4 separate regions of the Homo sapiens genome follow, and all the other regions are linked to region 4. Evidence: fine-mapped expression QTL. A gene starts in region 4. Each other region holds a variant in brackets. All regions are shown on one strand. Distances are from middle to middle.

What was found. PIP is the estimated chance that this variant, and not a neighbour inherited with it, causes the effect.
Region 1: its variant is fine-mapped to the expression of C1R in whole blood (TOPMed, PIP above 0.99).
Region 2: its variant is fine-mapped to the expression of C1R in whole blood (INTERVAL, PIP above 0.99).
Region 3: its variant is fine-mapped to the expression of C1R in whole blood (TOPMed, PIP 0.98).

Annotation. Positions count from the first base shown.
Region 1 is chr12:7,121,194-7,123,899 of GRCh38, reverse strand. RBP5 (retinol binding protein 5) reads left to right here. Exons shown (of 4, transcript NM_031491.4): 4 at 1-214. It overlaps C1RL-AS1 (C1RL antisense RNA 1), which reads right to left. Exons shown (of 12, transcript NR_026947.1): 12 at 2,049-2,188. Among named protein-coding and RNA genes, the nearest start is that of RBP5, 6.3 kb to the left of the region's middle. The variant T/A (reference allele first, on the strand shown) is at 1,359.
Region 2 is chr12:7,124,836-7,127,541 of GRCh38, reverse strand. All of the region lies in intron 2 of RBP5 (retinol binding protein 5), which reads left to right. Among named protein-coding and RNA genes, the nearest start is that of RBP5, 2.7 kb to the left of the region's middle. The variant G/TTG (reference allele first, on the strand shown) is at 1,473.
Region 3 is chr12:7,112,776-7,115,481 of GRCh38, reverse strand. It overlaps C1RL-AS1 (C1RL antisense RNA 1), which reads right to left. Exons shown (of 12, transcript NR_026947.1): 7 at 263-352; 8 at 1-96. Among named protein-coding and RNA genes, the nearest start is that of C1RL, 4.9 kb to the right of the region's middle. RefSeq lists an enhancer at 1,714-2,215. The variant G/A (reference allele first, on the strand shown) is at 1,626.
Region 4 is chr12:7,091,161-7,093,750 of GRCh38, reverse strand. It overlaps C1R (complement C1r), which reads left to right and starts at 1,306. Exons shown (of 11, transcript NM_001733.7): 1 at 1,306-1,364; 2 at 2,071-2,299. The coding sequence starts at 1,363. RefSeq lists an enhancer at 964-1,258.

The DNA.
Region 1 (2,706 bases), 30 kb before region 4:
GTCAAGGTCTGGCGTCCCAAATGAAAGAAGCAGGCAAAGGGAAGGAGCCCCTGAGAACAACCAATCTCCGCTCTCTCCTGTCCATTTGACCTCTTCTTTTCCTTCTAAGAAAGAACTAAGCTTTGGGCATTTGGCGATTAGTGAAAATTCTATCCTGATGGACTTCTGGAAAACTGTGACTGGGGTTCAAGAGTTTAAACAGGGGCTACTGGCAGAGTCTTTTTGTCCATTTCTTTGTCCTTATCCTTGAGAAAGTCTCATGTGCTCAACAAAACCAGGCCCAAGACACAGCCCCCCACACACAGGGTTCAACGGACTCCACGGTTCTGACATCTGAAGGCATCTGGCCATTTGATACTTCCATCCTATGTGTTGGGAATGAGGGATGGAATGGGGTAAGACCTTTGTCCAGTGCTTGGGGAGGCGGGGAGCTTCTAAATGGTGACCTGTCCTCCGTGTCTGCTTTGGGAAGGGCAAGCAGCAAGAAAGCCAGAAAAAGCTGAAAAAGGAAGTAGACGGAGGATGTGAGGTCAAGGAATAAAAGACAGTAATACAGGGGTGTGAAGGCATAGGAGGGAGAAGCCCAGCAGTCCTGGCTATAGGGACCCTCTGCTCAAAGGCCAGCAAGGCTGGAGACCAGAGATAAAGAGGAGAGCTGAGGACAGCAAGGGTCCCAGAGTTGCTGCCTTGGAAAACAGCCCAGAAGGGTGGAGCTGGCTCAGGGTCAAGGCCAGCTCCAGCCTCTGGCCTCCTCTCCACCTCCAGGGGCCTTGGCTCTTTCAGAATAAAAGTCCTAGGGGGCCCAACTATCAGAGTGAAGAGGGCTCAATGTGAGGGTGGGAAAAGAGCCTGGGGGAAGGGTTGAGGGAGTTGGAAAGTCCCTGGCCCTCATCAGATGAAGACTCTTGACCCATCTTCCTGCAACGGCTGGCCCCCCCATGCACACAAGACAGTCACTAGGGCTCTGGCCAAGAACTAGGGGCTTGTGATACTGATCCTACCACATGCTCTGGAATGAATTTGGAATAGAAAAAAAAAAGGAACTCAGGGTTGAATGGAAAATCTTATTCCCTGCCCAATCTCTGCAGATGTCCACAGTAGAGTGGAAAGCCCCTTCTTTGCAAAGCCACCCAGCAGAAGCTCTGAGGGCTGCTGGAATCCACCTTGTCCCATTCCAAGGCACAGGAGGATGCTCCGTGTGTACTCGCCCATTGCCCACATCTCCAGATCAACACAGTGTCCTTGCTCTTGAGTTCACAGTGCATGTCCAAGCCTCTTCCCACAGGACGGTCCTCCATGCCCTTCAGTGACCATGCTGGTCAGTGGAGTCTCGGCAGAGGCCTTGACTCAGGAACTTG[T/A]AGGCCCCCATGGTGGGTTTTTCTAAATATTTCTATATATTTTTATTTTTCCCCCAAAGGTTGACACTTCTTACCATGGTGGTTTTAAGACCCAAGCTAAAGTGGGCTCAATCCCTCAAAACTCCCCGTGATGTGGGCGTCCAGAACATGGCCACTGCAGGACCCCATCCTCCACTCGACCACACTTCTCCAGGGGCCAGACCACACCCAAAGGCCTGGAGATCCCCTAAGGGAGCACAAGCATCAGGGGAGGACTATGCAGCTTCAGAGGCATTTCCAAGAGGGTGGGAGCTCGACCTGCAGAGGGGAGGGGACCGCTGTGGGAAGCTGGAGCTGCTGTTTCCCCTGCGGACACTAGAAGCCAGGGATTCTCCAAATTCAATCCTCCCTCCTCCACCACCTTCTCTGATATTCCATTCCCACCACACACACACACACATACACACACACACATATAAACACACACCCAATCCATGTCCTGGTCCTCACAAGACCATTACCCCTCATTCAAATCAGGTTCCATCTGTCCTCAGAGGGAAGAGATAATCACCAGAGGGACCAAGATGTGAGTGGAGAAAGGGCAGGGGAGGGGACGAGGGCCACAGACAGGTGGGTCCCACACCAGACCCTCCCAGGGACACACAAAGTTGTGGAGTTGACTTGGTTGGCCAGAGTCTTAAACTCCAGGGATGTGATCAGGAATCCAAAATGTTTATTTCCATATGGATGGAATAACTGTGCTCTCTAAGTCAGCCCAATGCAGGCCCCTGCCCCACTCCCACTCCACCAGGCCCAGATTCCAGCTGGAACTCCAGATGGTCCCTGAGAGTCTGCAAAGACCAAAGGTCAATTCAGAGCCCTGTCCCCAAAATAAACTGAGCAAAAGTGGATGGGGAGGATGGGTACAGGTGTGTGTCCTGTGAAGCAGAGGACCATGTGCTGCCCAAGGACTTGGGCTCCATCCCACTGGGGGGTCCCAAGAGGAGGCAGAGCAACAAGGTCTAGCCGTGTACCCCTCCCCACTGCCCACCTCTCCCCTCGGCCTCCACCTCCCACATGACCCTGACGCCTACGTGCCCAGGCCTATATGTTGAAAAGGAGCTCAGGTAGAAGCAGGAAGTGCCTCAGCTCTAAAGCACAAAGGCCATCCCGGGTCCAATCCTGTAACATGGTTGGACCACTTATTGGCAGCAGAGAACTCCTAGAGGCCACCACAGATCTCAAGATCCCAAGAGACAGCAGAGGCATGGCCATTTTGGTACCTTTCCCCCACCCTAATGTCACTCCCTAAGATGCAGGAACCCCATCTGGTCTAGCCTTAAGTACCCCAAGTAAGAGGCCTGGTATC
Region 2 (2,706 bases), 34 kb before region 4:
ATACAAAATGATACAAATAAAAAACAATACAGTATAGCAACTATTTACAGAGCATGTACATTGCATTAGGTATTATAAGTAATCTAGAGATGATTTAAAGCATATGGGAAAAGGCTGGGCGTGGTGGCTCACACCCATAATCCCAAGACTTTGGGAGGCTGAGGCAGGCAGATCACTTGAGGCCAGGAGTTCAAGACCAGCCTGGCCAACATGGTGAAACCTCATCTCTACTAAAAATACATAAATTAGGCCAGGTGCAGTGGCTCACACCTGTAATCCCAGTACTTTGGGAGGCCAAGGCGGGCGGATCACCTGAGGTCAAGAGTTCGAGACCAGCCTGACCAACATGGAGAAACCCCATCTCTACTAAAAATACAAAAAATTAGGCAGGCATGGTGGCGCATGCCTGTAATCCCAGCTACTCAGGAGGCTGAGGCAGAAGAATCACTTGAACCTGGGAGGCAGAGGTTGCAGTGAGCCAAGATCGCACCACTGCACTCCAGCCTGGGCAACAAGAGCGAAATTCTATCTCAAAAAAAAAAAAAAAAAAAAATACAAAAGTACAAAAATTAGCCGGGCATGGTGGCGCATGCCTGTAATCCCAGCTACTTGGGAGGCTGAGGCAGGAGAATTACTTGAACCCGGGAGCCAGAGGTTGCAGTGAGCCAAGATCATGCCATTGCATTCTAGTCTGGGTGACAGAGCAAGACTCTGTATCAAAATGATAATAATAAAGTACACAGGGGGATGTATGTAGTTTCTCTACAGATACTAAGCCATTTTATTCAGCAGATTTAGTGAGGTGGGGGTCCTGGAACCAATTTCCATTTGAATGCCAAGGTCAAATTCAAATTCACTGTCTTCCTATCCAAACCTACCCCACTTTTATATCTACTCTCTCCACTAATGGCAATAACCAGCCAGGCCAGAGACCTGGGAGTCATGGTCAATATCTCTTGTTTCCTTACCTCTAGGCTCCCAGCACACACACACACACACACACACACACACACACACACACACACACACACCACCACCACCACCACCACCACATCTAATCGGCCAAGAAATCTTTGTAGCTTTTCTGCATTACCCAGTATAGCAGCTGCTAACTTCAGATGGCCGTTGAATACTTGAAATATAACTAGTCCAAATCTAGATGCTGTAAGTGGACTTTCAGACAATGCCAAATAAAAAGAAGCATTTCGGAAATGTTTATATTGGCTGCATGCCGAAATAATAATATTTTGAATATTTTTGGTTAACTAAAATATATTATTTAAATTAATTTCCCCTATTTCTCTTTACTTTTCTAATATGGCTCCTGACCCATTTTATTTCTGTTGAGCATCACTCTTCTAAATGGCTCTCCTGTGTTCCCTCCTAACCTTTCTCTATCACCACCCTAATTCAGGCCTTCATTTCCTGGTGCCTGAAATTGCTTTTTTGTGTTTTTGTGTTTTTTTTTTTTT[G/TTG]GTAGAGGTGGGGTCTCACTGTGTTGCCCAGGCTGGTCTCAAACTCTTGACTTCAAGTGATTCTCCCGCCTCAGCCTCCCAAATGCTGAGATTACGGGCCTAAGCCACTGCACCCAGCTGGTTCTCACGCTTAACCCTCCTCTAATCTGCATGCTGTAGCCACAGGGTCTACTTAAAACATAAATGTGATCATGTCACTCTCTGACTTACACCCTTTCAGTGATGATCTATTACATTACATCATCTGTTACACTTAACTCAGCATACAAGGGTCTCTGTGAATCAACTCTTCAATTGCCTCCACCACATATACTCTAGGTTAGAGCCCTTCAGAACTAATTGCCTTTCTCTTTTACCGCTATTTCTAGCTGTTTCTTTCCTTGCTAGAAATTTCCCATTCTCTCCAATCTAATTAACTCCCAACTTCCTTAAAGATTTCACTCTGCCCGCCCCACTGCCATCCCTCACTCTTGCCTGGTGTCACAGTTACCTATTTACTGATCCTCTATCTCTTCAAGACTCTGAGCTCCTTGTTTGGGGCCTATCCTAAAGGAGAACTCAATAAAGGTTGATTGGAATGCTCAGGCCCAGAGGGGCTGACCCTTTATTTCTAAGGATACTTCAGCTGTTCTTGAAACCGAGAAAGAGGAGAAATGAGATTACCTGGTAGGATTCCCAACCAATCTCTCTTTTTTCTCAAAAGTCCCTCTAGGTCAGCCAGAAGTATCCAGAGGAAAAAGTCTCCATTCTTCATAAATGCCCTCCCCAATTTCACCTCTACTTATCCTGCTACCACCCCTGCTCTCCCCTAAAGGTCACTGTAGACAACTTTGGGCCCCCCTCGGTGACCTTTAGGAGTGGAAAGCTGGGTGTGATGGTTCATGCCTATAGTCACAGCACTTTAGGAAGCGGTGGCGGGCGGATCACTTGAGCTCAGGAGTTTAAGTCCAGCCTGGCCAACATGGAGAAACCCTGTCTCTACTAAAAATACAAAAATTAACCCGGTATGTTGGTGCACGCCTGTAATCCCAGCTACTCTGGTAGCTGAGGCATGAGATTCACTTGAACCCAGGAGGCAGAGGTTGCAGTGAGCCGAGATCCTGCCACTGCACTCCAGCCTGGGTGACAGAGCAAGAACTTGTCTCAAAAAAACACAAAAAACAAAGAGTAGGGTGGAAAGGGAGTCCTGCTGAATCAGAGCAGCTCCCTCGCTCAGTGGAGGGGCTGCAGCAGA
Region 3 (2,706 bases), 22 kb before region 4:
AGGGCAGGATCCTTCTCCTTCTACTCACAGAGCTGCTCTCTACAACCAGGTACCAACAGTGAGGAGGCGGTCACGTGGCAATGATCAGGCTTCTCACTAGAGAATAGTAAATGGGGCAGGGCCGTGTTCAGACCCTCAAACTCTACCCAACCCCATCTCCCAGATGCACCTGTCTACCACCTGCTTCTCTTCCTCCCTGCACACCTTGAAAACTCCAAAACCTGGTGCATACTCCCCACTCTGCCCCATCCCAAGAACTCACCCACAGACGCAGGTGGACACCTAGATGTGCTGAGTCCTAGGGCTGCCACAGCCTGCAGGACAAAATTCCTCCCTCAAGGAACCCACAGCCCTGTGGGAAAGACAGACACACGGGCAGGAGGTTATCATGCATCAAGAGTCCATGAGCACAGGGAAAGTCATTTTCTCTGAGTCAAAGAGGGCTTCCCAGAGGAGAGGACACGGGGAGAGAGGTGAGTAAAAATGGCCGGCATCCAGGGCATGAGTACTACATGCCGAACGCTGACTCTTCTCAGGAACCCAAGCACAGGTTATTGTCCCCATTCTACAGATAAGAAAACTAAGGAACAGAGAATTTTAAGTAATTTGCCAAAGGTTATACATGAAATAAAAGACAGAGATGGGATTTGAACCCAAACAGATTGGAGCCTGACCACCCAACCCTCAGTTTCTCCACCTCGCCCCTATTGACGTTCAGGACCAGGTAACATTTTGTTGTGGGACCTGCTGCCTTGTGCACTAGGATGCTTACCAGCATCACTGGCCTGTATCCACTAAATGCCAGTAATGGAAAAAAGAAATCTCTAGATATCATCAAATATCCCCTGGGGAGCAAAACTGCTCCTTGTTGAGTACCACTGATCTAACCATTTTGCTATTCTATTCTGCTTCCTAAGCAAGTAATGATATTTATTGTTTGCCAAATGACAGACACTGCCCTAAGCAATTCTGGTTATTAACTCATTTAACCCTCACACCAACCCTCTGGTGTGGGTACCGTTGTCCTCATCCTTGTTCTTCAGATGAGGATGTTAAGAGGCACAGAGAAATTATGTAAGCTGGCCTTGGTCACCAAACTTTTAAATGGTAGAGCCTGGGTTTAAACCTGGTGAGTGTGGCACACAAGCCCACTCCTTTAAGCAGCATGTTATGCTGATGACTGAAGAACACGGCATTGGTCGGGGAGTCACACATGCAAACGCAAGGCATGTTTGTGAAGCCATAGCATCATGACCGCGCCTGGAACACACATGCGAGGCGGCAGCGGTGGAGAGCGAAGCCAGAAAGTCATGCAGAGCCTGATTATGAAGGAAGAACCTGACGAGACAAACAAGTGGCTGGGGCTTCATCTCATGGATCAGGAGGCACAGTCATTGAAAAGTTTTAACCTGGGAAGGGGCACGATTGATTGAGATTTTAGATACTGGCAGAGTAGGGAGGATGGGCTTAAGGGCTAAACCTAGTGGCTGACACTCCATTGGGGTTGAGCTAGCGACTGCCTAGGTGTCCATAAGGCATGGAAGTCAAGGCCCTGACATGAAAGCCTGAGATAACTTGGGGGTGGAGGAGTGTGACCCATTAGGGTCACCCCTCTGCCCTGGGCT[G/A]TCCACATCTCCACTGGCCATGCCAGACAGAAGCAAAGGGTCCCAGTCTGGCTGACTCAGCCGCCTCATCACCCCTGCTGCTCTTCACCTCGCTCCTGTATCTCCCTCCTCACCTGGCACTGGGCACAAAAGCCCCCACGTGTCCCAGCCCAGGGCAAGGTATCTAGAGATAAGACAGGGAAGCTGTGGACAGAAATGGCTCGTGCTGCCCCAGACTCCTCTGCCTGGGCTCTCCTGTGGCTGTTTGGATTCCAGGAGAGGGCAAGCTCCTCTCTAAATGCTGGGGGCTCATGAAGGCTGCAGAGAAACTCCCTGGCCAGGAAGCCCCAAGGCACTTTCTGTTGTCCTGCCCTTCCCCTTTCAGGACAGAAGGGGGCAGCACCAACACGATTTTCAAAAATAAAACCAAAAATAAAGTCACTGGAGCACCCCAACCTTGTTTGCCCAGCTAAGATTGGAAAGACCCATGCCTGGCCTAAGTTTATATGCAAGGACAAAAACTTCTTCATTAATCATGTGGATTAAAGATGCCGATTAAAGGATCCATCCCCTCATTCTCTAATCCTGTCTGGCTCAGAAAGGACCATCTGGTCACAATTATAATTTCAGATACATTTATTTTGTAACTATCAAAGTTATTAAATAATATTAAAGAAGTTTTACTAAACAGAGAAACATGGTTTAAATCATCCACAACCCCATACTCTAATAGGAAGCAGTTATTTTAGATTTTTCTCACGGGTGCTTTCTATATTTGTAAACATAGTATCCTTACAATTTGGTAGCTTGCTACCTTTACTTAGCATGCCAGGAATCCCAGCTCCCTTACCTGCACTTGGGGGCCTTAACATAGAGCAGAGGTGGCCTATGCTCTTTAGGGACACTTGGGTAAGGGAAAGGGAACTGAAGTAAATGATTGAAGTGTTAGCAATAAGGTGACCAACTGTCCTGGCGTGTCGGGGAACTTAACTGGTTTTAGTGTTGAAAACCTCATGTCCTAGGAAAACCTCATTTCTAGACAGACCAGGATGATTTCTAATAGGTTACCCTATTAGAAAAAAGTCCCCCCAAATTCAGACAT
Region 4 (2,590 bases):
GTGCCTGCTGTCTAACTACTGATGATGTGGTCACTGCCTGATGGGGAACTGCATCAGCTCTGTGAATTCTTGCAATCTATTGCCTGGGAAAGTGTCTTGCACATTAAACAGGTAGCCCATAAATGGATGAACGGGGGTGGGGGCAGAAGGGTGGAGGTTGGAGGGATTCATCTAATAAGGGAAACAAGCAGAACAGCCTACAAAGGCTTAAGAACGCAGAGTCCTGCTCTGCAGCCCAAGCCCCTCCGTGGGATGAAGTGCCATCAGATATTTGGTGCCATGGAGAGTTGATGAAGAAAGCCTTCCAAAAACAATGAAATTGTTTTTTAATTTATTTTAACTTTTAGAGACGAGATCTCACTATGTTGCCCAGGCTGGTTTCGAACTCCTGGGCTCAAGAGATCTTCCCACCCTGGCCTCGAAAAGTGCTGGCATCACAGGCATGAGCCACCACACGTGGCCAAGAGCAAAAGTTTTAAAGCAGGACACTATGGCCTGATGGACAGGAGAGACTAGGGTCCCTCCTCCCTCCCAGGGGCCTGGCTTCATCTCAGAAAAACCGAGTCCCTCTTGCTCCACACCCGCATCCTTAGCTTCAGCCCTGGCAGTTGTGTTGAGCAGATGCTAAGGAGATGGGGACATTTTACCCCCTCCGCAGCCGCCCCAGAGGGTCTCAAACCCAGGGCTGATTTAGGGTTGCCCTGACATGGCCAACCCTATTCTATGTCCAAGTGTCATTCATGGCTAAAGCAGGCCAGGGCCCCAAGGCAACCAAGCTCCTCTCTCCTCTGCCCGCTCCCACACACCCTCCTCTGCCCCAGTGTTCCTATCATTACGTCCTGGGCATTGAAACCCGGGCCATTCTTGGACCAGGGCTGTGGGCTGAATGAGGGCAGGAAGAACAGGGTCAATGGGAAAGGACAGCCCAGAAAAGAGAATTCACCACCACCTGTGGTCTCCCACTGCTTTGGTAGGAACCTTGTAAACACAGCAGCAGCCCCCAGGAAAGTCTTGGAAGAAGGGAGAAGCTGATCAGATTTAGAGACTGAGACATCTGGGCCTCCAACCCAAGGCTCCCCGGGCCCTAAAAAGCCAGACTCCCGTCTCCTTAGCCCTTTCCCTCACCGACCAGCAGGTGGCACCACAAACAGGGATTTCAAAACCAAAACTAAATTAAAGTGGAAACTCAGATCTTTTGTTTATGCAAATAGTTCATTCCCTCCAACATTCCTCCGGGAATGGTCCCCCCTCCACTCCACAGAAAACCCTCCCCTCCCTGCTGTGCATGACGCGGGCTCCCTCTGCACACAGTGCACGAAGACGCTGTCGGGAGAGCCCAGGATTCAACACGGGCCTTGAGAAATGTGAGTAAGGGTGATGGGCAACCAGGTGGGAGGGAGAAGCCAGGGGAGAAGCCAGGGCATGGGAGGCAATTCAGGGAGACAGGAACACCCTTCTCTCTTCACACACCTCATCAGTTCCACTGTGCACACGCGTGGACACACACAACACACGCCCCATCCCTCCTCCTAGGGATCAGAGGAGACTTCATACATAGATGCTCATGCCATGGTCCTTTCTTCCCTCTGGGCTCTTGGCAGGGAGCAGCGAGAGGAGGGGACCCCTTGCCCAGGACGGGACACTCTGTGCCTGTGTCCCCCACTCCACAGATGGTTTCTCCCAGACGCTCTTGCTGAACCTGTGGGAGCCCTTTCAGAGACCCACGGGTGGAAACCCTCACCCTCCATTAACTGGTCCCAAGCCAGTCCTATTCCTGGAAGGGGAGGGGAGGGACGCGTCCGGGCAGGGGAGGAGGCTGGAAAGGGAGTGTGAGGGGAGTGTGGTGGCCTCTGGACTGGACACTGCCCTGGAGAGTGACCCGATGCAGCAGCTGCACAGGCCATCCTCCCCACCCACGCACCCCTGCTGAGAACATGTCTGTGAGGTTCAGGGTGGGCAGAGAGGAGAATGCCCAGTGGTATGGCCGTCTCATCCCCTGCCACAGCCACTGCCCACATGGCAAGAGTGCTGAACCCCTCCAGCTCCAGATACTCTCTTTTGTTTTGGCAGGTGGCTCTTGTACCTCCTGGTGCCGGCCCTGTTCTGCAGGGCAGGAGGCTCCATTCCCATCCCTCAGAAGTTATTTGGGGAGGTGACTTCCCCTCTGTTCCCCAAGCCTTACCCCAACAACTTTGAAACAACCACTGTGATCACAGTCCCCACGGGATACAGGGTGAAGCTCGTCTTCCAGCAGTTTGACCTGGAGCCTTCTGAAGGCTGCTTCTATGATTATGTCAAGGTAGGGGCAGGATGGGCGGGCAGAGGGGAGACAAAACTGGGCCCTCTGGGATCTGGGATCTGTATGGCATGCACACCCCCAGACACAGCCCAGCCCCACAAGAGCTGATGGCCAACGGCCTCTCTGAGAGCCCGGGGATGCCCTGGATGGGCGCTCACTGGTGTAGAGGCCCTCGGTGAGCACTGAGGGGAGAAGCACAGAGAAGGAAGGGGACAGGACCCACTCAGGAAATTCAACATCCACTGAGTCAGGAAAACCTTCCCCATCTGCTGTCTAGCTGAGAGTCTTTGG